Regions from separate parts of the Homo sapiens genome. Here all the other regions are reported to be linked to region 1. Evidence: microRNA targets listed by miRTarBase, many of them from high-throughput screens and not tested one by one. Region 1 holds a microRNA gene; each other region holds the end of a gene's coding sequence.
What was found. The annotated mature microRNA hsa-miR-6869-5p reads GUGAGUAGUGGCGCGCGGCGGC and lies in region 1 at 2,061-2,082, opposite strand. An mRNA with a match to its seed (bases 2 to 7 or 8) in the 3' UTR can be bound and repressed. Matches are read on the target gene's strand: a 7mer-m8 pairs with bases 2 to 8, a 7mer-A1 pairs with bases 2 to 7 and ends in A, and an 8mer does both.

Region 1 (4,874 bases):
ATGCATGCCAGGGTCCTGCTGCTGCTCTGGAAACATGTGGGTGCGTGCCACCCGCGAGAAAAACACACACTTCAAGAGGCACTGGAAACCCTGATGGTGTTCTGGGTCTCATGACCATCTGTTCTCATAGGAAAAGGCTCCAGACATGCTGTGTGGGGATATTTCACAAAGAGACATGGTGAAGTGCGGCACTGCCTACATGCTGGGGTCCAGTCCTGTTGGCAGCACCAGAACATGGGCGAGCATGAGGGGCAGACGTGGGAGTGGGACACATGCTGCCAAGCACCCTAGTGTGGCTATGTACAAGCTAGGGTGGGGAGGGGGTGCGGCAGAAGGCAGCTCCTCACGGCTTGAGTCCCAATCTTTGCCCCAGTTGGCTGCGGAACTGAATGAACTGCCCACTCACCCCAGCACTGTAAATGGTTACTCTCCTCATCCTTCCGATGACAAATCACCAAAAGGATGCGCTTTCATCTACCAGACCTCCCAGGCTCAGGTGCTGACTGTGGCCTACAAGGACAGCTATCTAAAACATCAAAAGCACTTTCCAGCTTCCTTCACGGACATGAGACTGCCTGCTCCCCAGAAAGATGGGTTTCAGTAACTCCTCCTTTGGCAGAATTTTTAAAGTTCTAGTCCTTAACTTCTACCTCCTGCCCCCATTTCTACCCACGGGGAAGGGCCACAGAAATAAAAGGGCATGGGAGGGGGGATGTTAGTTGCCTTTTCCTCTTTCCAGTGAAAGTCATTTCCCTCAATAGAGGGATCCCTCCATGTTTCCATGATTTGGAAGAGAAAGGTGGAGCTTATTCGTGAGCAACTTGGCCAGAACTGCCCACAGCCTACTACCCAGGAGGAGGAAGAGGAGGAGAGGGAGTGGGAAAAAAAGAGGGAGGAGGAGGGGGAACAGAGGAAAGGGTGGGAAGGTTGAGAAAGGGGAAGGAGGAGGGGGAGGGAAGGTTATTCGTATCAACAACTGTGGCTACACCAATCACTGCCACCCTTGTGGGACCCACAGCCACTGAGTCTCCGCCAACTCAGCTCTCCCCCTCCCCCGCCCCCATACAAACCAGGACAAGCTTGTAAGGAGAAGGAGTAAGACAGCCCCAAGGCACACGACTCTGATGTCTGAATTCTGGCTGGGGAGGGGGAGGTGTCTAAAATTTCCTTTGGCTTGTATTATCACTATGTATTAGCCTCCAGATGCTTATCTTTAAAATGAGGACGAGAAAAGTCTCTACTTCTAGAAGAGCTGGGGGACTAAATTACACGTGCAGCTTTCGGTCAGCCTGAGCCAGCGCTGTCACTGAGCCTTGGATTTGTAAGTGGCTCAAAAGTAAAAAGACGGAAGAAGGCCGTGCAGCTCTACTTCCCCCAAGGCCAGGAAGGGCCAAAGCAATGACTTAGGAAGTGGGATGTTTCCCCACCCTAGGCAAAGGGGCGAATTCCGAGTTCCCCGGAGGAAGCAGCAGCTCTGCAGACTCGGAATTACCTCGTCCTCATCTCCAGTGAAGGGAGGGATGGAAGTGGGGGCAGGGGCACAGAAATGGTACAAATCCTTCCTAATGGTCCCTGGCCAGAGCTCTGCCCATTCCTGAAAGTGTGACCTTGGGAAAGTGAGACCTTGGGAAAGTGACTTCGCCTCGCCAAGCCTCAGTTTCCTCATCTGTGCAGCGGGCATAAGGGCAGCATCTAAGGTGCAGAAATGCTTCTGACGGGTCAGATAACACCTAGCCCGCAGCCGACGCTCACAGCCGCCGATTCAGACCCGCCCGGGTTCCGCAAGCCCCAGGCTGCCCCTGAGCCACCGCCCAGGCCTCAGCCTCGGGCCATGCGGACCTCGCCGCCGCCACGCCCCGGACCCCAGGCCCCGGGCCCCCAGGCCTCGACGGCCAGCCGCACCCGGGCTGCGGACTGCGGCCCGGGCCCCCTCCCCGCTGGGCCCCCGACTCACCGGTGTAGTGCACCACGCAGGTCTGGCCGCGCTTGGGGAAGGTGCGCCCTGAGGAGACAGAGACGGGCATGCTGAGCCGATGCGCGCGGCGGCAGAGGTACTCCGAGCCGCCGCGCGCCACTACTCACCGTCTCCTGGGGAGATGGTTTCCACCTGCACTCCCATGGCGGCGGCGGACGCTGAGCGGGCGGGCGGCGCGACGGGCGGCGTGGACCAACAGCGACCTGGCGGCGGTTCCACGGCTCTGCCTAGTACCTCGGCGCGTCGCCTGCGCACGCGCACGCCCCCTCACGCCCAGCCCTGCGTGCGCGCCCCACACGGCGCGCGACGTCCCGGAAACCCAGGCCTCCGGAAGAGGGACCGGAAGCCCAGAAGCCCCGAGACCTCCGGAAGCCCGGAGGCCTCCGGATACAGCTGTGTTTGCCGGGTGACTTGCTTCGTTCTCCTGCCCTTCCTCTGTGCTTCCAGCCGGTTAAGCATCTCCCTGCCCAAAGAATGGGAGTAATAATAGGGGGTCCGCCAGTCACTGACTGGGTGACTGTCATCAGGTTTCCACTTAGAAGCACACAGTTACTCATCCTGGGAAGAGCATGGTTCTGAGAAGACAGCGCACAGGTGGTGGTAGTATGTTAGTATTTTATAAGTGGCTCAAGGTTGTAAGTTCTGCTTTTCTTCACTGGAGGAGGAGTTGTCCAAATTCATTCACTCACCCATAGCTTACATGCATACATTCTTATTGAGCATGTGAAAGTTGATAATACGAATTGGGTCACTCTTCTTATGCCCAACGGAATCAGAATCCAGGGGCCAGGGGAAAAGCACTGGAGGCACGCAGCGCCTGCTCCAAGAACCAATATTTCCACTAACTGCTGCGGAAATGGCCTGCTGTCCCCCTGAGACCAGATTCAGCTAGTAACTGCTGAAACAACCCGCCATAACCTAATACTAGTTTTACTTACCACTGTCAGTCACCAATCAGAGCTTGCCAGCTCCCTGAAACTTTACTAGTGCCAATGCATTTCCCTTTCTAATAAAACGCCCAGCCTTCTCTTTGTTTTTCGGACATACCAAAGACCACCAGATCTGTGTGTATGCTCCGAGTTGCGATTCTCGCTTCCCCAAATAAAACATTACATTTAGAGATTCATCTCCATATTTTATTTTGACTTTGACAAGCACCTTCTGTATGTCATGTACTGTGCTAGGTGCTGAGGATACAGCGGTGAAGGAGTCAGACTTAGTCCCTGACCTCACAGAATCTACGTATGATGTGGGAGAGATAATCAAATAACCTGTTTAAGTAAAAAAAGATACGGAATAAATGTAAAGTTTCAAATCTGTAATATTATGAGACAGTAATACATGCTGTGAGGGGCGTGTTAATATAACAGAGATGCCTCACTTAGTCTGGAATGTGGTCAGATATTTCCCTGAGTTAGCCAGGTTTAGCCAGGTTTAGCCAAGGTTAGAAGGCCAATTGTGTGTATGTGTTGGGGTAAGGGGAGGCAGAAGGAGCAGTACCTGCAGAGGCACTGTAACGCAAGAGAACACTGTGACATGGTCTAGGACATAAGGAGGCACATGTGACTAATCTTTCTCTGATCTGTGTGTGTGTGTGCTTCTGCATTAGTCGATTCTCACACTGCTATAAAGAATACCTGAGGCTGGGCACGGTGGCTCATGCCTGTAATCCCAGCACTTTGGGAAGCTGAGGCGGGCAGATCACTTGAGGCCAGGCGTTCAAGACCAGCCTGGCCAACATGGTGAAACCCAGTTTCTACTAAAAATACAAAAAAATTAGCCAGGCATGGTGGCACAGGCTTGTAATCCCAGCCACTTGAGAGGCTGAGGCATAAGAATTGCTTAAACCAGGAGGCGGAGGTTGTAGTGAGCCAAGATTGCACCTCTGCATTCCAGCCTGGGTGACAGAGTGAGAACCAGTCTCAAAAAAAAAAAAAAAAAAAAAAAATTCCTGAGACTGGGTAATTTATGGAGGAAAGAGGTTTAATTGACTCACAGTTCTGCATGGCTGGGAATCCTCAGGAAACTTACAATCATGGCAGAAGGGGAAGCAGGCATATCTTACACAGCAGCAGGCATGAGAGAGAGTATGTGAAGAGGAACTGTCAAACACCTATAAAACCATCATTTCTCATGAGAATGCACTCACTACCATGAGAACAGCATGGGGGAAACCACCCCCACCATCCAATCACCTCCCACCGGGTCCCTCCCTTGACCTCAGGATTATAGGGATTACAATTCAAGATAAGATTTGGGTGGGGACACAGAACTAAACCATACCAGCTCCTGTAGTGTTTTAAACATGACCTCACAGTTTTTTGACACCCCAACCCTCATCTATGTCCCCTTTCCTAAAATCTCAGTGAGCTCGTGACTGCTTTGGAAATTTTAATGTAGTAAGAATACAGGCTGTAACAGAACCAAATTAACTGTGGCTGAAAAGAGGCTGAAGTTGCTGTCTCTCTCATGTAACAGTTCAGAGGCAGGTGGTTCAGTGCAGGTAGGACTTCACAGGCTGCCCAGGGACTCATCCTTCTTCTACTTGTGGCTCCCCATCCTTAGAATCCTACCCTCATATGCATGGTCCAAGTTGGCTCTCCAACATATTTTCATCTCAGCTAGTGGGAAGGGGGAAAGGAGGAATGGGGGGTACATTCCCTTTTCCTTTAAGGGTACGACTTAGAATTGCACACATCTCTTCCCGTTATACTTCACATTGACTATAACTTAGTTATATGGTCAAATTTAGCTGCATGGGAGGCTAGGGAATAAAGTCTTCATTCTGGGTGTACACACACCCAACTAAAATCAGAGGTTCTGTGCTCATAGAATGGAAGAATGGAGATCGAAAGATGAAATTAAAAAGAGGGCCCCAGCAGTCGCCAGGACACTGCTT
Region 2 (5,130 bases), not on the chromosome of region 1:
CTCAAAAAAAAAAAAAGAAACCCAGTTATTGATGTGCGGCTTCTGTTCTCAGCCAGGAGGCAGGCTCAATGGTGTCCCCAAACCAGTGGTTATGGTTCTCAGGAACAAAATACTGATCAAGGCAAACCTCCTTCTACAAACTTTCCTCTTCATTTAAGGAGCCAAGGCAAAGAGGGACCACTGTGCTCATGGACCCATCGCTGCCTTCCAAGGACCATTTCCCAGAGCTACTCAACTTTTAAGCCCCTGCCATGGTTGCTCCTGGAAGGAGAACCAGCCACCCTGAGGACCACCTGGCCATGCGTGCACAGCCTGGGAAAAGACAGTTACTCACGGGAGCTGCAGGCCCGTCACCAAGCCCTCTCCCGACCCAGGCTTTGTGGGGCAGGCACCTGGTACCAAGGGTAACCCGGCTCCTGGTATGGACGGATGCGCAGGATTTAGGATAAGCTGTCACCCAGTCCCCATAACAAAACCACTGTCCAACACTGGTATCTGTGTTCTTTTGTGCTATGAATTTGGATTCCTAATTGCTATTGTTGGTTGCTGGGGTTTTAAATGATTGATAAGCTTGTACAGTTAACTTATAGAGGGGGAGCCATATTTAACATTCTGGATTTCAGAGTAGAGATTTCTGTGTTGTCTCCTAGAAAGCATTACATGTAGTTTATTTCAGCATCCTTGTTGGGTGGGGCCCTGGCTCTCTTCCCCTTTGGTGGGACCTCCCCTTTCTTTGGGCTTCAGTTCACTCAGGAAGAAATGAGGCTGTCGCCATCTTTATGTGCTTCCAGTGGAAATGTCACTTGCTACAGACAATAGTGCATGAGAGTCTAGAGAAGTAGTGACCAGAACAGGGCAGAGTAGGTCCCCTCCATGGCCCTGAATCCTCCTCTGCTCCAGGGCTGGCCTCTGCAGAGCTGATTAAACAGTGTTGTGACTGTCTCATGGGAAGAGCTGGGGCCCAGAGGGACCTTGAGTCAGAAATGTTGCCAGAAAAAGTATCTCCTCCAACCAAAACATCTCAATAAAACCATTTTAGTTGAAAAGCAGTGATTATCCTGTGTCTCCTTTCTCCTGCTTCAGGTAAAAAACCTTTTATAAAAATATAAAAATTAGCCGGGCCTGGTGGTGCATGCCTGTAGTCTCAACTACTTGGGAGGCTGAGGCAGGAAAATCACTTGAACCCAGAAGGTTGCAGTGAACTATGATTGCATCACTGCACTCCAGCCTGGGCAAGAGGGAGACCTTGTCTCAAAAAACATAACAAAACACGGCCAGGCACAGTGGCTCACGCCTGTAATCCCAGCACTTTGGGAGGCTGAGGTGGGTGGATCACGAGGTCAGGAGATCGAGACCATCCTGACTAACACAGTGAAACCCGTCTCTAATAAAAATACAAAAAAATTAGCCGGGCATGGTGGCGGGCACCTGTAGTCCCAGCTACTTGGGAGGCTGAGGCAGGAGAATGGCGTGAACCCGGGAGGCGGAGCTTGCAGTGAGCCGAGATCGCACCACTGCACTCCAGCCTGGACGAAAGAGGGAGACCTTGTCTCAAAAAACATAACCAAACACAAAAAGCCTTAAGGGAATGGCGGCCACAGCTCTTGTTTAATAAAAAGGGACCCTGAGAGCATCAGGGCTGCGGATGGGATCTTAGTTCCCAAGTCCAGCCGTCTTTCTGGGATGGCCCAGGGACTCTTCCCATGAGAAGAAATTAATGCGACAAGTTAGGAAATCAGAAGAAACATCTAGAACCCAACTGCCGCCCACCTGTTACTTCACATCCTGAAGTCCTGACTGTACAACCTCAGGGACAAGTTTCTCTTCCTTTTTTTGTAAGAGTCTCGCTCTGTCGCCCAGGCTGGAGTGCAATGGCACCATCTTGCCTCACTACAATCTCCACCTCCTGGGTTCAAGCAATTCTCCTGCCTCAGCCTCCTGAGTAGCTGGGATTACAGGCGTGCGCCACCATGCCCAGCTAATTTCGTATTTTAGTATTTCGTATTTTAGCCACCGTGCCCAAATGGGCCAGGCATGGTGGCTCACACCTGTAATGCCAGCACTTAGGAGGCTGAGGTGGGAGGATCACTTGAGGCCAGGAGTTCGAGACCAGTCCCAGCAATATAGTGAGACCTCATTTCTACAAAAAATTTAATAATTAGCTGGGTATCGTGGTACATGCCTGTAGTCCCAGCTACTCAGGAGGCTGAGGTAGGAGGATCACTTGAGCCCAAGAGGTTGAGGCTGCAGTGAGCCAAGATTGGCCCACTACACTCTAGCCTGGGCGACAGAGTGAGACCCAATCTCAAAAATCAAAACAAAACAAAAAGGGAAAAAAATAGTATCTTACCAAAAAAAAAAAAAAGGCAATTCTACAAATTAGTACGAAATTCTTTGGGGAATTCTAAAGCAAGCGCAAAGAGTATGGTCTAGAACACAGGAAGAGCATCACGGTGTTTTCCTGAGGGCTGGGCTGCATCTCTCCACTCTGCCGCCCTCTCTGAAAGGCTCGCCACCTGGCCATTCTGAGAAATCAGTCTAAATAGGAAAGACAGCAAACCCTGCCCTCGCCCTGGGGAAGTGGCGCCTTCAGGCTTCTAGAAGAACCGAGATGAGCTTGTGGGTCTACTATCTAATCGCCTTTTCTACTTGTAGGCTGCCAAGGCCCGTAGAGACAGGAAGCTGGTTTTTCTCGAGGCTTCACATGGTCACCTTATTGCCAACAAACACTGCAAGGCTTTATTAGCTAAAATGTCAACCCACACACAGATCAGAGACCGCCCTCAGCTTCTCTGCGCCTTTCCGCCCCGTCACCGCATCAATGGGGTGGAGGCCAAACTCAAACACTTGCGGGGCACAGACGTCCCAGAAGCAAACATGCAAGTCACGGGAGTTTATTTATTTAATTTTTTTCCCCAGATGGAGACTCTGTCGCCCAGGCTGGAGTGCAATGGTGTGATCTTGGCTCACTGCAACCTCCACCTCCTGGGTTCAAGCGATTCTCCTGCCACAGCCTCCCGAGTAGCTGGGATTACAGGTGCCCGCCACCACACCCAGCTAATTTTTATATTTTTAGTAAAGACAGGGTTTCCCCATGTTGGCCAGGCTGGTCTTGAACTTCTGACCTCAGGTGATCCACCTGCCTCGGCCTCCCAAAGTGTTGGGATTACAGGCGTGAGCTACCGTGCCTGGCCAGCCACTGGAGTTTAAAGGACAGTCATGTTGGCTCCAGCCTAAGGCGGCATTTTCCCCCATCAGAAAGCCGCGGCTCCTGTACCTCAGAATAGGGCACCTGTAAGTCAGTCAGTGAAGTCTCTGCTCTAACTGGCCACCGGGGCCATTGTCTTCTGACACAGCCTTGCCAGGAGGCCTGCCATCTGCAAAAGAGAGTTCACTCCTTCCGCTATTTTCATGTGAGTGTATCCAATTTCCTGAAAAACAAACCAAATTCAAATCTGGTTAATAAGTGGGGGAGTTCTTTTTTAAAATCTGAACTGAAAAAAATAAAAATAAAAACAGAAACAAACTGAACTAATGGTTTTTTCAAAATCAGCATGAGGAATTCCAACCCCAGCCGGAAAATGAATGCTAAGATGCAATGGATTATGTTTACCTAAAGTTCTATTTATTTCTTAAAAGGATGCTGATAGTTCTTTCAAAGAAACTGTTAAGAAAATGGGTGGGGCGAGGGGGGGCGGGGTGGTGGCACGGAAAGCCAGGCTAGAGGAAAATATTTATATATCTGATAAAGAACTTGCATCCAGACTGTATAAAGAATTCTCAAAAATTCAGTAATAAAGTCCAGGCGTGGTGGCTCATGCCTGTAATCCCAGTACTTTGGGAGGTCAAGGCAGGTGGATCACGAGCCCAGGAGTTCGAGATCAGCCTGACCAACATGGTAAAACCCCATCTCTACTAAAAATACAAAAATTAGCCAGGTATGGTGGCGCACGCCTGTAATCCCAGCTACTCGGGAGGCTGAGGCAGGAGAATCACTTAAACCTGGGAGGCGAAGGTTGCAGTGAGCTGAGATAGTGCCACTGCACTCCAGCCTGGGCAACAGAGCAAGACTCCATCTCAAAAATAAATAAGTAAATAAATTCAGTAATAAAAATCAAACAACCCAATTAAAAAATGGGTAGATTTAGACCTGGAGCAGTAGCTCACACCTGTAATCCCAGCATTCTGGGAGGCTGAGGCAGGAGGATCACTTGCCCAGAGTTGGGCCTGGGCAACATAGCAACACCCAAACTCTACGAAAAAAAGAAAATAAAAATGACCCAAGTGTAGTGGCACATGCCTGCAGTCCCAGCTACTCGGGAGCCTGAGGTGGGAGGATTGCTTGAGCATGGAAGGTTGAGGCTGCAGTGAACTATGATCGCACCACTGCACTCCAGCCTGGGTGACAGAGCAAGACCCTGTCTCTCAAAAACATAAAAAAGGTAGGCCAGGCGCAGTGGCTCACACCTGTAATTCTAGCACTTTGGGAGGCCGAGGCGGGAGGATCACTTGAGCCCGGGAGTTCAAGACCAGCCTTGGCAACACGGGGACACCCCGTCTCCACCAAAAATATAAAAATTGGCCGGTCTTAACATGATCTCTAAACAAAAAATACAGTACAATTAAAATAAAAAATGTAAAAATTTTAAAAAATGGGTATATATGAACAGATGTTTCATCAAAGAAGATTCTGGATGGCAAACGAGCACATGATTAAATGTTCAGCATAGTAATTAGGGAAATGCAAATTAAAGGCACAATGAGATCTCATCACATGCCTATTAGGTTATTTTGTTGTTGTTGTTATTGGTTTTTTTTTTTTTTTTTTTTTTAAGATGGAGTCTCACTCTTGTCGCCCAAGCTGTAGTGCAGGGGTGTGATCTCAGCTCACTGCAACCTCCACCTCCTGGGTTCAAGCGATCCTCCTCCCTCAGCCGCCCGAGTAGCTGGGATTACAGGTGTAAGCCACTGCATCCGGTCATTACACACCTATTAGAATGGCTTAAAAACCAAACTGAGCACTCCATGTGGTGGCTAGGTTGAGGATCCTCCGGAATGCTGGTGGGAATGCACGTGCTGCAGCCACTTCGGAAAACCGTTTGGCAGTTCCTTATCGAGTAAAACATACAC
Region 3 (5,130 bases), not on the chromosome of region 1:
AAGAGTCTGAGGTCTTTGAATCTGTGTCTGCTTACAAGAACCTTCAGATTAAGCCAGGCATCAAGATTTTCCGCTTTGTAGCCCCTCTCTACTACATAAACAAAGAATGCTTTAAATCTGCTTTATACAAACAAACTGTCAACCCAATCTTAATAAAGGTGGCTTGGAAGAAGGCAGCAAAGAGAAAGATCAAAGAAAAAGTAGTGACTCTTGGTGGAATCCAGGATGAAATGTCAGTGCAACTTTCCCATGATCCCTTGGAGCTGCATACTATAGTGATTGACTGCAGTGCAATTCAATTTTTAGATACAGCAGGGATCCACACACTGAAAGAAGTTCGCAGAGATTATGAAGCCATTGGAATCCAGGTTCTGCTGGCTCAGTGCAATCCCACTGTGAGGGATTCCCTAACCAACGGAGAATATTGCAAAAAGGAAGAAGAAAACCTTCTCTTCTATAGTGTGTATGAAGCGATGGCTTTTGCAGAAGTATCTAAAAATCAGAAAGGAGTATGTGTTCCCAATGGTCTGAGTCTTAGTAGTGATTAATTGAGAAGGTAGATAGAAGAATGTCTAGCCAATAGGTTAAAATTTCAAGTGTCCAACATTTCCCAGTTCCACAGTGGGAAATTTTGCACACTTGAAATTTTAACCAAGTGGCTAGATATTATTCCTCCTTTGAAGCTAATGGCATTTGTATATACACACTGCAGCAGAGCTTGTAGCTGGACAGAGTCAAAAAGAAGAAAATACGGTTTCAGGCTTTCTTGCAGATATGAAGTATTCTTGGAATGCAATAAGTATGTATTGAACTGTACTGTAAAGTAGCTCCAAAACTTAATTACTCTCCTGTTTTAGGGGTTATACATTTGGACTGTGCATTCTCCAAGAGATGAAGCGGTGAAGTTGGGATTTACATTGGAAGTGCTGTAGACTTCTTTATGTGGCTCAGTGGAGAGAGGGAAAGAATGTTGCACCTGCTCTAGTACCATAGGTCAAGAGGCTTCTGGATCACAAAGTCATAACTAGACAGGTTTGTTCTTGTAGTTTTCTATCCCCAGTCTTTGCTCCCCAGATGGCAGTAGTTTTTAGTAGGAAAGTGCCATTCCTGTCCTTAAGGCACAGTCTCATCAGAAGTCTAATACCTGGGCAGGTTTATAACATCCTGAGAGCCAGCCTGACATTAGACAGAATACCCTTTGTAATACATTGGAAATTTTTACTCATGCCTTTTTGTTTAGGATAAATAGGTAAGCACAAAGAGCTCTTCAAAATCAGAAAAAACAATAGGAGTCCTTCCTTGTCTTTTCTGTGATCTCTGTCCTTGTTTCTGAGACTTTCTCTACCATTAAGCTCTATTTTAGCTTTCAGTTATTCTAGTTTGTTTCCCATGGAATCTGTCCTAAACTGGTGTTTTTGTCAGTGACAGTCTTGCCAGTCAGCAATTTCTAACAGCATTTTAAATGAGTTTGATGTACAGTAAATATTGATGACAATGACAGCTTTTAACTCTTCAAGTCACCTAAAGCTATTATGCAGGAGGATTTAGAAGTCACATTCATAAAACCCAAGTGCTATGGGTGTATTATTCATGATAGCTGGCCCACAGGTCATGAATTGAGGAGGAATTTGCTTTCAAAAAGCAAGAATGTCCAACACTGAAAGTTTATAGTTTTATATTTGGACCTTGAAAGGTAAGAAAAAACCAGGTTCTCCAAAGTTAGGAATAGGGAACTAATTTATGAAACAGCCATCTTAAAAAAAAAAAAAGTAAACTGCAAAAGTACAAAATCATTTTTCAATCTGTTCCCAGTTTCTAAACAATTTTAAATATTTATGAGAAGCAAACCCTATGTGTAGGGCATCTGTTGGAGTGGGATGCTTTTAGACATATATTAAGTATGTACATGTTTAATATGTATATTTAAAATGCATATATATTTTATTATATCTATATTATCCTATATAGATATATGTAACTTAGCTTTATTGTTAGCTCCATAAGCTGCCAGTGTTGCTTTTCTGTTGGTAGAGCTCTCCCATTTGGTGACATGGAAAATACCTTTCCATTATCACAACAAAGCAGTTGCTCAGTAGAAAGTCTAGATTTCTGTCTTATAGGTGATTTCTGTCTTATAGGTGATTATAATCAAGTGTAGGCTTCCTGAATTTTGACATCCTTTTAGAACTTGGGTCTGGAATTCCAGAAATGTTAATTGCTGCTTGTATTTGTTCTTGTTTGTTTTTTAGCCAGTATTTGCCCTTTCTATCCAGCCTTATGAATAATAGCAGTAAAATCACAGTATCTTGGTCAGTCTTTATTTTTTTCCTTTTTTCTTTTTTAAGAGACAGTCATCCAGGCCAGAGTGCAGTTTGATGATAGCTTACTGAAGCTTCCCACTCCTGGGCTCAAGTTATCCTTCCATTTTGGCCTCCTGAGTAGCTAGACCATAGGTATGCATCACCACACCCTGCTAATTTTTTAAATTTTTTTCTAGAGAGAGGGTCTCACTGTGTTGCCCAGGCTGGTCTCAAACTCCAGGCTCAAGCAATCCTTCAGCCTCAGCCTCCCAGAGTGTTGGGATTACAGGCGTGAGCCACTGCACTTGGCCAAGTTATTTATTTTTAATCTCTCTTGCCCTTCTCCCAAGGCAGGCTTAAGTTGAGACTATTATAGGTGTCTAATAACCTGTGACAGAGTAATGAGTACATGCTTAAGATGTTATAATTAGCCAACACCAACACAGCAAAAAATATAATTCCAGCCAAAGATTCTGGAAAATCCCTCAGAAGGAGGGATAACAGGATTTGACCTTTACCAGCGATTTCTGTCCATATGTGGATGTAAACAGTTCTGGAACGTTATGCATGCAGTTAGCGAATCCTTGAATTATGTTCTGGTTTGTACTTGTCCCATCCATCCAAACAAGAGATTCTGCTTTTGGTAGCCATCTGTAGAAACATTTAAGATGTCACTAGAATTTACATTTCATCCTCTCTACTTGGGTTGAGGTTGCCTATACTTGCATATTGTTAAAATGTTTTGGTTGCTGATATTCAGAGGAATGAAACCTGGAACCAAAGCCTAATTTGCCGATAAAAAAACTGTTTTCGGCCAGGTGCAGTGGCTCATGCCTGTAATCCCAGCACGTTGGGAGGCCGAGGCGGGTGGATCACCTGAAGTCAGGAGTTCGAGACCATCCTGGCTAACACTGTGAAACCCCGTCTCTACTAAAAATACAAAAAATTAGCGGGGCATGGTGGCACGCGCCTGTAGTCCCAGCTACTCAGGAGGCTGAGGCAGGAGAATTACTTGAACCCGGGAGGCGGAGGTTGCAGTAAGCAGAGATTGTGCCACTGGACTCCAGCCTGGGTGACAGAGCGAGACTCCGTCTCAAACAAACAAACAAAAAACTGTTTTCATTTGCTCTCTTGACCAAAGGATAGGACTTTAGTTCTTTAAGCATTATTTTAAACACTATATTGATACAAAAATATCTTGCTTACTCTAAACTTTAGAGTCTAAATGAAGCTTTTTCTCAGTACAAGATTCTGAGTATCATAAAATGGTTATTTAATTGAAACGTAGTGTGGTATACTCTTGATGGTTAGAACTCTTACAGCCTTATTTATTTTTAAGTTTGTTACAGCCAAAGGGTTGGAGTGTGCCAGTGCACAGGTAGACTAAGGAAAACATTATAGAGGAGTGAAGAGAACAGACCATTGAAAAGACTATTATCTGACCAGCGGAGGCAGAAAAGAGAGGAACCCAGTTGAATAGGATCCAATCCCTGGTTAGCCTCTACACAATAATAGGGAGACAAGGATTAGGAGCCATACCTCCCAGAGCAAGGTATCTTTCTAGAGCAAATTTCTCTTTCTAGAAGGGGAGGGTCACAGGGTCACAGATTCACCAAAGCTGAAAGGGCTGAGGAGCTCATGGTAGCCTGGGCTGACCTACTCTGGAGCACGGTGTCTTCCTTCTAAACTGAGTGACTGTAGTACTATCTGTGCCTCTGATGGTAATAAAACTGACAAGATGTCTAATTTTTTTTTAAGTAGGACCAAAGGAAAACAAGATTTAGATAGTCTGACTTTGCTTTTGAACAACAGACATTGCAAGTCAAAATTGTTGTCAAATTTACATATGGTAAATGATGAACTTTAAAAATGTGTCCAGGTGTTAGATGAGTTCATTAGACTCTTTTAATGCTAATGGCTAGTACGTTTAAACAAAACAGCAGTTCTCTGCTGCAATATTCCCATTGACCACTTAAATGACCATAAGTGGTCATTTAAGAACATGTTAGGGTTAGCCCTGATCTGAATATAAAAGTGAGAAAAGGGCTACAGTGCATTTCTTGGTAACTTAAACTGAGTCTTGAAGTTATAATGATCCATTCGAGTTCTGTGATCCTTATTGTTCTTAATTGTGTTTCTCTACGTATTGTTACAGATGAGCCATACGTTTCTTTGTATCAATGTAGACATGACTTCAGATACCTCTGAGGACCTACCCAGCAGTCTAGGACCCTGGGCCAAGTGCTGGGACTATGGTACTAAATCCAGTAGATGGGCTGTGTAGCAACTCTCCCAGGGAACACACTAGGGTACTTAGGGAGGTGCTTTGTGGAGCATGTTGAAGCTTTGAGATCTGAGCAGGAGGCAGTGATGTCCCTGGTCTATTCAGGGAAAGATTTCAGTGTGAAATGGTAAACATCCAATTGACAGGATTTAGATTTTGCTTAGTTTTTCTGCTTTTTAATGTTTCTATCCCCCATCTCAGTGTTTTCTTTATCCATCCCAGTGATGCCTTATTTGAAACTGGGCTTAAACTGCAAAAAGAATGAAGTTGGATTTAGGAAGCTGTTAGATCATTGAGTGGTGTTGAGAGTGAAGTTTCACTAGCAGGGAAGTTTCCTTGAGCCTAAAATAAAAAGAAAAAATTAAAAAGAATCAGTTTTTTTAATTAAAAAAATAGAAAGCTGTTAGGCTCCTAATTCGTGGGGTTTTTTTTTGTAAAAACAGTTTAGATAATCCTGAATGCAATCATTAACTTGGTTGCTAATTACAAGAATGAAAATTATAATGGAAAAGGACAAAATAATATACCAGCTGGTTTGTTATTATA
Region 4 (5,130 bases), not on the chromosome of region 1:
CAAATATGTTGTCCGTCTGTTGTAACTATGTAGATATTAATGCTATATGTGTATATGAATATGGGTGTGTGTGTGTGTGTAATATCTCATTCCTTGTTCCATTTATACTTACTTTCTTCCTTTTCCCCTCACTTTTAATTTATATCATCTTGCTGTATTTTATGTATCCTTGTACGTCATGGCACTGGTGTGTATTTACATGCATACCTACAGTACATTGCTGTGGCAGGCAGAACTGTAAGATGGCCCCTAATATCCCCATCCTCTGGTGTATACACACCTTCTCTCAGTTATTCCAATCAAATGGCGATTTAGCTGCTGCTTTGAAGGGATTTGCAGATGTAATTAAGGTTCCCAAAGTCAGGTGACTTTAAGAAAGGGAGATTATCTGGATGGGCCTGACGTAATTTAAAAGGGACTGGGCCTTTGACAAAGAGAAAGTGTGAGAGGGATCTGAGGTGAAGGAGATTCTCACCACTAACCCTGAAGATGGAGCGGGCTACATGGCAAGGAATACAGGCGGCCTTCAGGAGCTGAGAGAGAGAGCTCCTGGCTGAGGGACTAAAGGAGACGTCTCTTCTACAATTGCACAGAGCTATCACAACCACTTGAATTTTGAAGAGGATCTTGAGCTCCAGATGAGAATACAGTCCAGCTGATACAATGATTTTAGCTTTATAAGATCCTGAACAGAGAACCCAGCTACATCCTGCCCGAACTTGATTTACAGAACTGTGAGTAATAAATGAGTGATGCTGAAGCCTCAAACATCACTCAAAGTTTATGCTAATTGTTATGGCAGCAACAGAAAACTAAAACTGAATATTTATTTTGCTTCACAAAACTGCAACTATTATTTGTCAAATATTTATTGATGTTAAATCCACATTACACCAGCACAACAATCCAAAGTAGTATGATTGATTGATAGTACTTTTTTTTTTATAAATACAATATAAAGGTGGCAAAATAATGCTAGTTAATCCCAAACCCAGCAAATCAGCAAAAAAAGGTCACATTCAGAAAAATTTGGCAAGTAAGACATAAGTCATAATTCTACAATAGAGATAGGTCCATGAGAGACTGTGTATGGTATCTTAAATTCCATATTAGCAATGCATATAAGTGCGGTCAAAGAAACTTGAACCACACTGCATAGAACATCTGCCACCCGGTGCTCAAGCCTATTAATCACTTAAACCTTGGTTGGTTGGTGTTCTTACAAAGAAGTAGAAAGCTGTACATGTGAAACAGTAATATGAAATATATGGGGTGGTACACAGATATAAAATTATTTTAAAAAATACTACGTATGAATTGAGTAACTGAGCTAAGAGAGGCCACTTATAAATAATGAAAGATACATGTGTTTTGCATAAGGAATACAGTGTTTTCTTTTCATAGCAAAGTACCATTAAAGCCTCATGTTTTATACTACTAGGTCAAATTATTTTTTCTCCTTTTTAAAATTTATCGGTTCCGACTTAAAACCATCAAGTCTGGTCAGAATCAACTCAGTCTAGCTGATGCAAAATCATATGCATTCAAAAAGCAGTCTTTACCGAGATGCCTTTACAAACCTTGGAATCCAGCACCTTCTTAAGGCAAAGTTTCATGGCAGCAGGGAAGTGAACTAATAATTTTCATTTACCACATCTTGGTGTCTTTGAAAAAATACTTTATGGCACAAACCTGTTTTTGTCTCTCCTTATGTCTCCACTTCCTTCAAGTAGACTAGATGCTACAGGCAATTTCTCATTTATGCCACCATGCAGTCTCAATCCATTTTCAACTTGCTCTACATACCTAAAATCTTCCACTACTACACAAACCTCAGACACACTGCAATCTCCACAGCATGTGTGCTCCACAGCATGTGTGCTCCACACTTCCAGCTGGCCCTGGGTTCCTTGACTTGTGAATGGCAGTGTTTTTTTCACCTATGTTTGAAGAAAACCAAAGAAAAGCCTGGCCTTTGCTACCTCTCCTGTGCCTTCTACTTTTATCTAAATGAACACACTATAATCATGCTGGTTGCATTTTCCTTCATTCTCCTCCCTACTCCTTCCAAACCCCTGATTCCTCCAAATACTATATATGCCTTGGTCATTTGGGTGGTTTGGATGCTTTCTGTGGAATGAACTGTAATATATTTCTGCTTTATTCAGAGCACTTTATATTATTTATATTTAAATTAGCCTTTTAATATGGTTTGTAAATAAGTTTCCTACCAAGGTAGCATGAAAACACTACACATAAAGAAAAAAAATGTTAAGAACTAAGGTATTAACCTTGTTAGAAAACTCTTTTGATATTAACATTTAAGGCAAGTAGTTCCTTCCTTATGATTTAATATAAAAACATTTGCAAAGACAAGGCATTTACTTGGATTTCTTTGTCATCTCTTCTTCTTTCATCCTTACATATTGCACTTGGTTCACTGTATCTGTCTGAATACACTGTGCTTCAGAATCATTGTAGTACTGTTTGTGGTACAACTCCCTCATTAAACATTTCACACTATCAGGCTACACAGCACCTATATCTTGTGTTTAAAGGCACTTGTAGATAATACAAATTGTAGTTACCTGTGAACAATTGATTTCCTTTAGTATTTTGGCATTTTGATCACTTTAATCACAGCAATTCCAAAGTTTTAAATTGGACAGTAAATGTGTATTTTCTGTGCAATGTGTATATTTGTATTAGCATTATCTACTTAAACTAAGTTTGGTATATCAAGTAAGAAAAATATTATTTTGGTGTTTTTTTTTTAATTTCTTATAGTCAAAGGTATGTTTCTGCCTTTTACATAATGTGACAAAGGAATATGTTGGTCAAGGCAATGGCTGTTTCAGTGTTTCAGCTTTAACAAGAATGCTGGATTACAGGTCCTCACTTTCTACCAAGGCAGTATTCAGTGTCAGGTGAGATGGGTTGGCCTCAGGTTGGAACGCTGCTTTGATGTCTAGTCCCTGGTCCGAAAGTGCTGCATAGCGACTGGCTGAGGGCCGTACTTTTTTTGGCTTGGTGCTCTGTGACTGCTGATGCCACTGGGCTACAAAGAAAAAGAGTAAATTAAGATTTTTAATCAAGATATACTTGGAAAGCCTTTAGATATTTCAAATAAATACAGAATGTCTAGATAGATGCAAGGCACCTGAACACATCCATGGTAGAAACATGGAAAATTTAGGAACACTTTTGCATTTTACTCACATGTTGCAGATTTACTGTCTATACAGGATAGTGGGAATAAAGCAGCTAGATTACAAAGGTCAAGTGTAGTTTATCTTTTTTTTTTTTAAGTAAACACTGCAGCACAGGGAATCCTTTGGAATAGCTGATAAGCTTCCTAATTCTCATCCCCCCTCTCCTTTTAAAAAATATTTTCTCTAAAATAATTATAGCACTTAGGAATTCTGCTGGATGTGGATGCTTTAACACTAATCAACTGAAAGGAATCGTACAGTAGGGAAGGTTGAGGCCACACATTTCTTGATGACCCTCACATAGTTATTTCAAGAAGAGGCAAAATCTGAAATAAATTCTTAAATAAATTCTTAATTTTTTTCTAGTGTTTTTTTTATGTCAATGGATAACATAATGCTGATTGTACTAGACTGTAAATTCAATAGGAATAATTTTCTTTAAATTTGGGATGCATGTACACAAATATACAAACACAAGTCTACTGCTGGCTGCTTAAGATATATTAATGAGAAAAGCACTAAGCCACAAAAGTACGCATTCCAGGATCAATGGAACACACGTTTAGAGTGCATTAGGACACTGCGATAGAATATAGGAAGAAATGTTAAAAGGCAGTCATTTGCAGAACACAGTAACAAGAACATGTGAAAAACATGGTTATGCCTTTGCCTACTGTTAACTCCTAAGGATGCTTGAGTAAGGAAGCCACAACTAACTAGCCAATGTAAGAGAAATCAACATGCATATTTTGCTAATAATTCAAAGTTCCTGAATGATACTTGGGTATTTGTTCTCCTGGTGTGGTTCACTATTAATGTCGAGAAACTACAAATAGAAAGAGAGAGAGAGCAATATGAATTTTTTTGACAAATAAAACACAATAGTTGTTTATAAAGAGTAATGTGATTTGCTGTCCAGATGTCTAATTTTTCATAATTTAATGAGTAAACGCAATGAAATGAGATGAAGTGGCACTCACTGTAAACGTCCAGCCTGGCAGTACAGGACACAATCCCTGCTTCATTCTTGGCTGACACAGTATACCACCCAGCATCTTCTTTTGTGGCTCCCTGAATGAGCAGGCAGATGTAGCCGTGGTTGTCCTGGTGCATGCTGGAGAAAAGGATAAAGTCATTAGGGTTCTAAATTTTTTAAAAGTGGCTTTGGACATGAAGCATCATTTTTAATTAGATCATTAGAAACAGAATTGTGCAAGTAGCTGATAATAGGGTCATACTTATTCTGTAGAGATTACTAGCTCCATTAAAGTTAATGGGAGAAAGAACAGACGTCAAGAGTTGAATACATCTGTGTGCTTAATTCCTAGTTGAGGATCTGCCTTTACAAAAACCACTGAATAGTCTTTTATCACTAAAGCAAATGAATTCATCTTTTCTTTTAGATAGAATGATAAACACTTTTAAGAAATCACCATTAGATCAAACACCCATAGCTTCCTTCTAAAAGCTTAATCCTACATTGGGTAACGCATGGTTTTTGTCTTTGATTGATTTCATCAAAAATCAAAACATCTATGTGGCTTTTACACATAGATTTCCATGCTATATAAAATGTATCTTTTGATACATCATTAGGACTGAACAGTTAAGGATCAGGTTCTCATTGTGCAGTCTTACCTCACTCGGTCAGTGCTGTGAGTGAGTGATTCATTTTCTTTCTTCCAAAATATCTGAGGTGGTGGCACTCCCAATACACGACATTCCAGCCGCACTGGGTACCCATCAGCAACTCCTGTGTTTTGGAGCTTCTCAATAAACACAGGGGGTTTGTGTGCTTCTTTAGCTAAGAAAACATGAGATGAATTCTCTATCAATGATATACAAAAGGAGCACTAGAAAGAATTCAGAAGGCTTTTGGAATATTGCTTGAATAGATCTTTTATGATACCATTTTTTA
Region 5 (5,130 bases), not on the chromosome of region 1:
CAGGTGCGGTGCCTCATGCCTGTAATCCCAGCACTTTGGGAGGCCGAAGCGGGCAGATCATGAGGTCAGGAGTTCGAGACCAGCTTGGCCAACATAGTGAAACCCCATATCTGCTAAAAATACAAAAAATTAGCTGGGTGTGGTGGCGGGTGCCTATAATCCCAGCTACTCAGGAGGTTGAGGCAGGAGAATCGCTTGAACCCAGGAGGCGGAGGTTGCAGTGAGCTGAGATCGCACCACTGCACTCCAGCCTGAGCAACAGTGTGAGACTCCATCTCAAAAAAAAAAAAAAAAAAAAAAAAGCAAGACCAGCTGGGGGTGGGTGGGGGTCTGATGGCAAACATGCTACCTCCCTTGGGTTGCTGGGATTCTCCAGCCAAGGGCGGGCTCGTTTTATTTCCTGTGCTAGCCAACCTACTAGAACATAAGCTTCCTTCTGAGCCCACGTCGTGTTTCACAGCACGTAGCTAAGAGAATGGATGTGTATGTTATTTGGGTAACTCAAAAAGTTACCTTTTTAAGAGCACAGGCTTTGGATTCAGATACAATTGCTCAGACACCTGCTTCATTGATAAGTCTATTGGCTGGTTTGTCCATCCCTCTACCCTGTGCTGGGCTCTGAGCGGGGGGATTGCCAGGGCAAATGCCACCAGGTACTGATGGGATTCTCTGAGGCTGTGGACAAGATTATCTGGGGAGGGGGAGAGTAGCAAGATGCTCCCTGAGACCCACCAACACTTGTGCAGGCTGAGCCTCAGTTTCCTCACCTGGAAAGATGGCCAGGGCTTTCCTCTCTGGGGTTGAGGACTGTGCTTTTCATAATATGGTCCATGGACCAGCAGAATTGGCATCCCCTGGGGACTTGTTAGAAACGCGAGTCTCAGGCCCCACCCCAGCCCCACTGCACCAGACTCTGCATTTTAACAAGCTCCCCAGGCAGCTCATGGGAACAGCAAAGTTGGGAGGCACTGACATGTTGGACTCTGTGTTCCTGGAAGGCAGATGGATGGATGGTAAGTGGAGACTTGAACTCAGGTCTCTCTGATGCTGAAGTCCATACACTTAAACCCTGACTGTCCTCCTCTGTTGGTGTATCAACCAATCCAGTTGAACCCTATCGAATGAATAAACAAATGAATTCAGGAAACCATGTCCCAGTCGGGTGCAGTGGCTCACGCCTGCAATTCCAGTACTGATTGGGCTGAGGCAGAAGGATTTCTTGAGTCCAGGAGTTTGAGACCAGCCTGGGCAACATAGGGAAACCTCATCTCTACAAAAAATTTTAAAATTCACCAGGCATGGTGGCATGAGCCTGTAGTCCCAGCTACTTAGGGGGCTGAGATGGGAGGATTGGTTGAGCCCCCTGAGGCTGAGGCTGCAGTGAGCCATGACCTCCAGCCTGGGCGACAGAGTGAGACCCTGTCTCAGGGGAAAAGAAAAGTCCCCTGCTTGTGCTAACTTTTGGTCTTTTCCTCTCTTCTAGGTGGGAAGCTGGCTGGCCATCAGAAGACCGTCCCCACGGCTCACCTGACTTTTGTTATTGACTGCACCCACGGGAAGCAGCTCTCCCTGGCAGCAACCGCATCACCACCCCAAGCCCCCAGTCCCAATCGAGGGCTTGTCACCCCACCAATGAAGACCTACATCGTGTTCTGTGGGGAAAACTGGCCCCATCTGACTCGGGTGACCCCCATGGGTGGGGGATGCCTTGCCCAGGCCAGGGCCACCCTGCCGCTCTGCAGAGGGTCTGTGGCCTCAGCTTCCTTCCCAGTCAGCCCGCTCTGCCCCCAGGAGGTTCCCGAGGCTAAGGGGAAACCCGTGAAGGCTGCGCCTGTGAGGTCTTCAACTTGGGGAACAGTCAAGGACTCACTGAAAGCCCTCTCCTCTTGTGTCTGTGGGCAGGCCGATTAGCTGGAAGGGCCGGGCTCTGATGCCCAGAGGCTGCAATTCCCAGGGCCTGGCCCTGCTTCCCCAGCTAAGCAGGAGTCTTTTGTGCTTGAGCCAAGGAAACATCATTAGATCCGCTAAGGGGCATCTGAAACATCCGTCGAGTGGCAGAGGCAGGATAAGTCACCTGCACATGAAGAGACTCATTCATTCATACAGCAAATATTACTGGTACATCTTCCACATGCCAGGCCCTGCAAAGTGCTGGGGAGATACCATGGTTTTCCTGGAGCTGGTATTTTTGGGGTGGAGGGAACCCACCCTGAATAAATAAAGTAACCCAATAAATAAAGAAGATGATTTTGAACAGCGATGAATGCTCTGCAGGAACTGAAACAGGATGCTAGAGGGAGAGTGATTGGGGTGAAGACCTTTCCTGATGCAGTGCTTGGTAAGGGCCTCTCTGCGCAGGCAACAAAGTGTGATCTAAAAGATGAGAAGGGGCCAGCCCTGAGAAAATCCACCCTCCCCAGGGCCACCTGCTGTCATCTTACCCCAGGGCAGGCCAGAGCAGTGGTCAGAATGCCCCAGCATGACGGGGAGGGGCAACGGGTTTCTTGCTGCCATCTTGGCTCAGAGGCGAGTGTGTAGGTCACTGCAAAGGCAGGGGATACCACGTGGGGAGACTCGAGGGCCATGCCAGTTGGGGCTGGGAGGCTCAGGGAAGTTGGCTCCAGGAGACTCCATCCCATAAGGCAGCCCAGGTGGGACCTGGGGATCTGAGATGGGAAATAAGGGGATCTGGCTTCTCAAAAGGGAGGGAGGTACTCAAAAATAGAGTATCATGTTTGAACGAATGAAAACAAGACATGTTATTTATTGAGCATCTACTGCATACCAGGCTCATGCTGCCCTCTAGGGATAGCAAAAAAAAAAAAAAAAGGTGGGGGGAGGAGGTTCACCCCTCAGGGCAATCGTGTTCCCTGAGCAGGAGGTGGAGTTACTGGTGTGGGTGTGAAGGTGTCTGTGAGTCTAAGGCATGCACAGCACTGTGAGAAACCCTAAAGCAACCTATTTAAGGAAGTCAGTCTCAAAGCTCCCAGATAAAAATCACTGGGTTTTTCTGTATTTATTTTAGAGACAGAGTCTCACTCTATCACCCAGGCTGGAGTGCAGTGGAACAATCACAGCTCACTGCAGCCTCAAACTCCTGGGCTCAAGTGATCCTCCTGCCTCAGCCTCCCGAGTAGCTGAGACTATAGGTGCACCACTACGCCCAGCTTGACTTCTTTTAGTAGAGAAGAGGTCTCACTGTGCTGCCCAGGCTGGTCTTGAACTCCTGGCCTCAAGCTATCCTCCCGCTTCAGCTTCCCTAAGTGCTTGGATTATAGGTGTGAGCCACCGTATCTGGTCATTAATTTATTCAATGACTATTTTACTAGGTTCCTACAAATACTAGCTGCTAACATTTAACATGTAATTGACCATTTACTCTGTGTCAGAGAAACAACATGGGCACTGTATTTGTGACCATTTTATAGATTAGAGAGCTGAGGCACAGAGAGGTTGAAGAATGGACTCAAAGTTCCATAGACTGGTACCATTGAGATTAGAACTCAGGCAAGTCTGGTGCCCATATTCTTGCTTGTAACTGTAAGGTATATACCCTCTCATCCTGGTAGCGTCTCTTCTAGGCAGAGGGGACACACAGAGGATAAATGTAACCCTGTCCTCAAGGAGCTCACAGCCAGGTGGGGGAGGCCAGAAAGAAAGCACACAATTGCCATAGCTTCTGAGAAGTGCAACAGTAAGGGCAACACAGAATGATGCTGGAGGACAACCAGCCCACTCTAGAGAGAGGAGATCAGGGAGGACTTCCTGCAGGAAGTGATGCCGAAAATGAGATCTGACCGGTGACTAAGCTATACAAAAGGGTGGGGTGGGGGAGCAAGTGGGGAGTGCTCTGGGCAGAAGGACCAGTCGTTCAGTCTGGCTAGGGTAATTGTCATTCATTCATTTATTCACCAAGTATTTATTGGGCATCCACTGAATGCCAGGCTTTGGGCTAAACCATGAGATGGAGCAATGAATAAGACAATGAGGCCCAGCCACAAAATAGTTTATCCTCTAGTTGGGGGAGACAGGCAATGCACACACACAAAACAAACAGATCAGAAAGGTGGCAGGAGGCCAGGCGCGGTGGCTCATGCCTGTAATCCCAGCACTTTGGGAGGCCAAGGAGGGGGAGGCGGGGGGAGATCACCTGAGGTCAGGAGTTCGAGACCAGCCTGGCCAACTTGGCGAAAACCCGTCTCTACTAAAAATATAAAAATTAGCTGGGCGTGGTGGTGGGCACCTATAATCCCAGCTACTTGGGAAGCTGAGGTGAGAGAATTGCTTGAACCTAGAAGGCAGAGGTTGCAGTGAGCCGAGATCTCGCCACTGCACTCCGGCCTGGGTGACAGAGCAAGAGCAAGACTGTCTCAAAAAAAAACCAAAAAAGTAAAAAGAAAAGAAAAGTGGCAGAAGCTGCATCAGGTGAGGCCTGGCAGGCTGCAACAAGACCTTTAGATCTTAGATCTTATTCCCAGATGGCAGCACTGGAAATTGTGAGCAGACAGCGTCATGGCCAGACGTACCTTTGGAAAGGATCCCTCCGGGCCTTCTGACTGCAGGGAGGAGGCACCGGAGGCTGAGTCTTAATCCTGAGAAAGGAGAGCAATGGTTTGGACTAGAGAGGAGGACGCAGTACAATCTGGTCGACATATGCCCATTCTACTCTCCTGAAGGCCCCAAGGACAAGGCTGCAGAGGGAGTTTGAGACCCTCAAGGAGAAAGGAGACCTGTGGCTGCACATCCGGCTTTTCACCAGCAGGTGTCGCCCTCTCATCAGACTAGAGGACACTGGGTCCAGGCCTGGACAGGGAAGGTGTGGACCTGCTGGGTCTGGGACTAAAGCCTTGGGGCCAGCCAACCAGTGGGTCTGTTTTTCAGAAGCCAGACTCATTCTAACCAATACTCCTTTCATCCAGAATAATGAATGTTTACTTTATGCCAGGCACCCAGCAAAGTGACATTTCAGAATTGAACCCTGGGGGGTCTTGGTGAGGATTCAGAGGAACCAGGCACTTATACCACTTATACTTGCTCCGTAAAGGGAGCTGTCATCATTACTATTGATGTCGTCAGTTACTATAGCTGTCGTCATTACGGGGCAATTGAATATACACCCCACACCCCATC
Region 6 (5,130 bases), not on the chromosome of region 1:
AATCTGTTCCCTCTAGCACTGATTCAAACATGTCAGTTTTTTAGTCCATTTTCCATCAACTCCTTTTCTGCCTGTGACGCAGCCTATAGTCAAAATATTCCAAAAGAGTGACCCAAGGTGCAGCTTGCTGCAACAGAACACCTCAAAGCAGGCATGATTGTAGAGAGGTTGGAGGGAGAGACAGCCAGCAGGCAGAGCCTCCTCCGTTCTGCAAGGCTTTGCAGCAAGTCTCGTTAACTTGACATCTTCCAACTTTGTACTTTACCATTTGCTTTGTTAGAAAGCCATTATTTTAACAAAATATAACATAGAGATTCTTTCTTAGCACTGAAAATGCTATGCTAAAAGAAATTTTAAAGAAAGATTATATTCAAATAGATGCTATATATGAAATTACTTTTTTTGGCTTTTTGGTTTCACCTAACACACTTCATCTTCAACAACAACAAAAAAGCTTATTTTTGAACTGACAGCTTTCAACATAATACATTTCATTTACAAAATAGTTCACAATATTTATTTAACAAGCGTTGCATTGAAAACAACTTTATGCACAGTGAAGCAACCAACAATAAGCAAACAGAAAGGGGTGGTAAAAACAGTACGTTCACTTTTCATTTCCTTCCTTGGTTTGGATTACACATATTCTTCCATCCTTGCATTTTTGGAGCTACATTATTAGTCCATCCAATACCAAAGTGAGCAGATACTTGATCCCATTTCTGGAAAGGAAATGTCCATCTTGGTGTAGGAGTTCTTGAGGCAGCTGGATTTACTGCAAATTAAGTAAACCTTTAAAAACGGCATTGTCACAGGCTATGTGTTCTCTGACATGCCAGGCTGGACAGGTGAGAAGAGCCTCCAAAAGACAAAACTTCTTCCTGGTTTAAAGAAACAGCACACTAGGCCAGATAAACACAAAAGGAAACAAATCACAGGCGCTAATAGGGAGTCGGGAGCTGTTCTTTTCTCTGACCTATACACATGGCTCTCTCTCACCAGACATTCAAATTTTTAGGCCGCACATCCACAAAGAGAGACATATATTTCACTGTGTGTTCAACTACATATGCACAAGACTATAGTACACACAAAATAGAAATAAATTATATAAGTCTTAAAGTAAATGCTAGAAGTTGTCTTGAGTACAGCCTGTTCTATATGAATAGGTGCCAGGTGCTGGCACTTCCAACTAAGCTACCAACCCTGAAGTAAGCAAGAAAAGAATATAAATATTTAAGAAAATAAATCAAAGTGTATTTCAAATAAGGCTCTTCCAAACAAAAATCTGTGTTATAAATTAACAGCAGGTTATTGTTATGGCAGAGTCAGAGACCTCCAGACTCTTTAAAATAGTAGACGACTCATTTGTCAAGAGTTAGGGTAAGAAAGCAGATCACCAGCTGCTCCTGTGTTCACAAGTGCTCCCCTAGTTTTCTTTCAGAAAACTTTGAAACAACTAAGCAGGCGGAGCTCTGGTTTCTGATAGGTGAGTGCCAGGCTTAATCTGCAAACTGAACAATGTTTCCTGGGAAGTTGCAATTAATTTTTCAAACCCAGGGCTTAAGTGAGGGAGACTGAGCCAAGATGGTAGTAGGAGGAGTTCCTTAGAAAACTGAGTGGCAGTGCAGCGGCTGTTGCAGCTCTGACAGAATTCACAAGGAAGCTGCTACAGCAAACCCATCAGGTTCCCATTAAGGCTTCAAAGAAAGATGCACAAAAGGTAGTCCAGACGGATTAACCTGGATTAACCTAGCACTAAGCATCTGAGGATCCCTAGATAAACAAACAAACAAATTATACTGCCAACAGGAGGATATTTTTTTCTCCCGTGGTCTCTCTTTAACTGATGATGAAAATCTTCTAATTGGGTCTTCGAGGAATTATCATAGCAAGCAGTCATCCACTAAGGTTGTGGAGATTATGTGGTTGTTTCACAACACAAAGGGAAGGTTCTTATGTGTTAGTTTTGTTTTGTTTTTAACAAATGCATTTTCAGAGACCAGTATCTAGAGGAACTACTGGCTAGGAGAAAGGGTGGTTTTAGGATTAGCTGTTATTGAACTGAAATAGTAATGCCAGTTCATTTCACAAAGGTATAACTGGTATTTTTGTAAGAAAGAAAATAAAGTTGGATTTGATTTAATGGAAAGCGATTTAAAGTACAGTACTAAATATTTAAATGCAGTGTGACAACCAGATCAAAGATGTTTCATATTGACATGATTTATAAAATGTTATATATAATATATATCTCATATATAAATTTTAAGCAATTGTGCAAATATTCTGTAAAAAGGGTCATTTCACATTACTAAATTCTAGTGGTCCAGAAATGCAGAATGCATTCATTAAAATTCATTTAAACATTAGCAAGTAGTGTTTAGATCACCGGAAATCCTTTTTAGCAGTCAGGGATTTAAGTAGCCTATTACTGATCCATGATCCACTAGATTAAACATCATAGAGGAATGCAATTTTTTTTTTAATAAATGGGTTCCAACTGTCAAAATGGCAGTTCAATATAAAAAAGAGTGCTCTGCCAAACAAATATTCTCCCATTTGTGGAATTTTATGGCTCACCAAAGAAAAAAAAAAAAAGAAAAAAAAATCCCACTAAAACAGTATAATTTCTGCTCTTCCTATGAAATATATTACTTGGTTCCCTCCTTCATTTAATTTTTTTAGATGTGGATTTAATTCATCATTGCAATATGCCCACGTCTCATGTTATCCTGTTGAAAACATAAAAACACACAGTATTTAAACATTTCCTATTTGAGACATTATTCTAGATCATAGTCAATCTACTGTGTATATATACATATAAAATGTATATATAAAATGTATATATACACACACACATATAATTTATACACACATACACATGTACCTATGATAATATCAGATCAACAAATGTTAACTTTATACAAGTATTTGCAAGAAAAAATAGGGCATTTTCTCCACCATTCACAAGCTTATGTTATTTTCTTCTTGAGGCAGTCCCTGATAAAATAAAATAATCATTAAACCATAAAATAATTTTGCCACTTCAAATTTTCAGAAGGCAACAGGCACTTTGATGTATATTGGTGTGTAACAAATATAATCTCTCTTCATATAGTCTACTATATCTCTTCTAATTGGGTATTTTTATCTGTTAAATCTTTGGTCCTTGAGCACACTTTCTTTGTTACAGCTGTTTTTGCTTGCATTTTTACATTTTAAAAATGTGATCTATGCACGCAGCTGGAATTAATGGATTGTGTCATCATAAGTTCTGCTGATTGTTACGAGAACTGCACCAACCTACTACTGTTCATTTGGAGCAAGCCGTTTGTTAGCAAAACAAGATCATTCCACAGAAAGCACTTGCTACAAGCCTCAGACAGTAATCCCAACGTTGGAGTTCCCCTTTTTCCTGTATTGTTACTATTAATATCTGAACTCCTAAACTGATTCACAAGTTGGAGTGAGACCTTTTTTCCTCCGTATTTTCCCTTTTATGAATTCCATCTTAAAAGAAACTTTCCACTTTTTTTTTTCCTATGGCAAAGCTATGGGAGCAGATACAGCAAACCCATATTGTCATCACACATTTCTTCTCTTGTATCAGGAGAACCTGGTTGCTTCTAATGACAGGTCTCTCTTTTTTTGCAGGATAGAATCCAATTGGGTAGGAGAATAAGAGAAGGGAAAAGGATCCTTTCGAGATCATGCTCCCACATCTATTAAAAGATACATAAGCTTTGCCAAACTTAAAACCAGGAGCATATCATCATTGCACAAAACACATCCCTAATAAGGGCTGGATCACTCTTTTTTTTTTCTTTTTTTTTTTTTTCTCTCCTGTCTTGTCTGAAATGGCTTCCCCACAGGACATTTTTAAATGATTCTTAATTGCAGGGTAGCCAAGTGGAGTAGGTCTGTTGCTGGCACGTGAATACTGGCTGAACCTGTGCAATGTAGTAATTGCTAAAGTTGGCATCTGCTACATAGGGGGCTGGCTGGTAATAGCAAGTGACATTAGCCACATTAGGAATGACATTTTGGTCAGCTAACACCCGGATAGCCAGCATGGTGATAAGGTTTAAAGTCTGTCTTCTTTCATGTCCCATCAGGCACACTGTGCTCTCATTTACCACTCCATGAAGGGTCATGAGATACTCATACTTGCGGTCTTCCAATCCCACAAAGTGGTTCTGCAAATAGGACTCCAGTTTTCTCTGCTGCTCTCCAATGTCTGAGAAGTCGATGAAAAACCTGGAACACATATACCTTTGAAGGGTCTTGATTTCATCAGAGGCGGGCCTAAAGCCCCTCACCAAGAGGTTGCAGTACTTAAGCAGGCCTCCCCCTCGGATTTCCTCTGGGTTCCTGGTGGCAATGATCTTGTTACAAAGGTGATCAAAGGCTTCCTGGAAATCGCCATAGACGCTCTCCCCGATTATTGTGGGGTGAAATGTCTCAGTCATTGGGTTCTCTGAACATTCATAAAAGAGCAGAAGAGAGTCTAATTTGATTTGAAAAGAATCTACACTGAATTCAAACTGCCTCCGGAGGGAATCCACAAATTTCAGTTCCACATTTTTGCCACTGTTGTTTGACAGGGATATAAGACTCCATCGGTCAGAGTCATTGCACACTTTAACCATTTTCTGCACATAAGCTTCCTACAATTTAAAAGATAAAACAAAATGAGCAAACCTAGAAAATAATAAATCAATAAATAAATACATCCTCTTCACAGCTGAGAATTATTTTGCTCTTTCCCTTTTGTTTTGTCAAGTTTCAGCCAAACACTACCTACAGGCTTAAACGGTCTTCTGAAAATAGAAAAAAAATACTTTTAACGAGTAGTTTTACTGTCTGGGAAAGGGACTAGAGGTAATAGTTTGAGGCTTTTGGCAGACGTAGCACAGTAGTAAGAGGTTTTGTTGTCATGTCTGACTTTTTAAGTGTTACTTTTTGAAAACGGTCTAATAGGCACAATATTCACACAGTATCCAAACAACATTCAAAAGACTCGGAAGGGCATTCAGCGGTAGGTTAGTCAGCCTCTCGCCCTTGTTCCAAGCCACCCAATTCCTCTCCGCCTGCGGCAATCAATGTTATCAGTATCTTGTGTGT

Region 2: the mRNA of RFC2 is a reported target of hsa-miR-6869-5p. The part of its 3' UTR that is shown has no 7-base or 8-base seed match.
Region 3: the mRNA of SLC26A2 is a reported target of hsa-miR-6869-5p. Seed matches in the 3' UTR shown: 7mer-m8 at 3,283-3,289.
Region 4: miRTarBase lists PALLD as a target of hsa-miR-6869-5p. Seed matches in the 3' UTR shown: 7mer-A1 at 1,318-1,324.
Region 5: the mRNA of SRARP is a reported target of hsa-miR-6869-5p. Seed matches in the 3' UTR shown: 7mer-A1 at 2,713-2,719.
Region 6: the mRNA of TENT5A is a reported target of hsa-miR-6869-5p. Seed matches in the 3' UTR shown: 7mer-A1 at 1,142-1,148.

Annotation. Positions count from the first base shown.
Region 1 is chr20:1,390,880-1,395,753 of GRCh38, forward strand. MIR6869 (microRNA 6869) reads right to left here and starts at 2,082; the gene lies at 2,021-2,082. FKBP1A (FKBP prolyl isomerase 1A) reads right to left here and starts at 2,175. Exons shown (of 5, transcript NM_000801.5): 1 at 2,083-2,175; 2 at 1,955-2,002. The coding sequence starts at 2,119. FKBP1A-SDCBP2 (FKBP1A-SDCBP2 readthrough (NMD candidate)) reads right to left here and starts at 2,293. Exons shown (of 10, transcript NR_037661.1): 1 at 2,083-2,293; 2 at 1,955-2,002. RefSeq lists enhancers at 262-775, 1,567-2,067 and silencers at 1,802-1,871, 1,882-1,981, 2,182-2,231.
Region 2 is chr7:74,228,786-74,233,915 of GRCh38, forward strand. It overlaps RFC2 (replication factor C subunit 2), which reads right to left. Exons shown (of 11, transcript NM_181471.3): 11 at 2,717-3,431. The coding sequence ends at 3,321. LAT2 (linker for activation of T cells family member 2) reads left to right here. Exons shown (of 14, transcript NM_032464.3): 14 at 159-1,049. Among named protein-coding and RNA genes, the nearest start is that of LAT2, 21 kb to the left of the region's middle. RefSeq lists an enhancer at 580-859.
Region 3 is chr5:149,981,266-149,986,395 of GRCh38, forward strand. It overlaps SLC26A2 (solute carrier family 26 member 2), which reads left to right. Exons shown (of 3, transcript NM_000112.4): 3 at 1-5,130. The coding sequence ends at 548. Among named protein-coding and RNA genes, the nearest start is that of TIGD6, 17 kb to the right of the region's middle.
Region 4 is chr4:168,924,141-168,929,270 of GRCh38, reverse strand. It overlaps PALLD (palladin, cytoskeletal associated protein), which reads right to left. Exons shown (of 22, transcript NM_001166108.2): 19 at 4,851-5,016; 20 at 4,193-4,326; 21 at 3,993-4,038; 22 at 830-3,058. The coding sequence ends at 4,025. It also overlaps a transcript of CBR4 not described here. Among named protein-coding and RNA genes, the nearest start is that of CBR4, 84 kb to the left of the region's middle.
Region 5 is chr1:16,004,436-16,009,565 of GRCh38, forward strand. SRARP (steroid receptor associated and regulated protein) reads left to right here. Exons shown (of 2, transcript NM_178840.4): 2 at 1,484-4,372. The coding sequence ends at 1,911. Among named protein-coding and RNA genes, the nearest start is that of SRARP, 2.8 kb to the left of the region's middle. RefSeq lists an enhancer at 1-486.
Region 6 is chr6:81,745,799-81,750,928 of GRCh38, forward strand. TENT5A (terminal nucleotidyltransferase 5A) reads right to left here. Exons shown (of 3, transcript NM_017633.3): 3 at 1-4,673. The coding sequence ends at 3,897. Among named protein-coding and RNA genes, the nearest start is that of TENT5A, 4.3 kb to the right of the region's middle.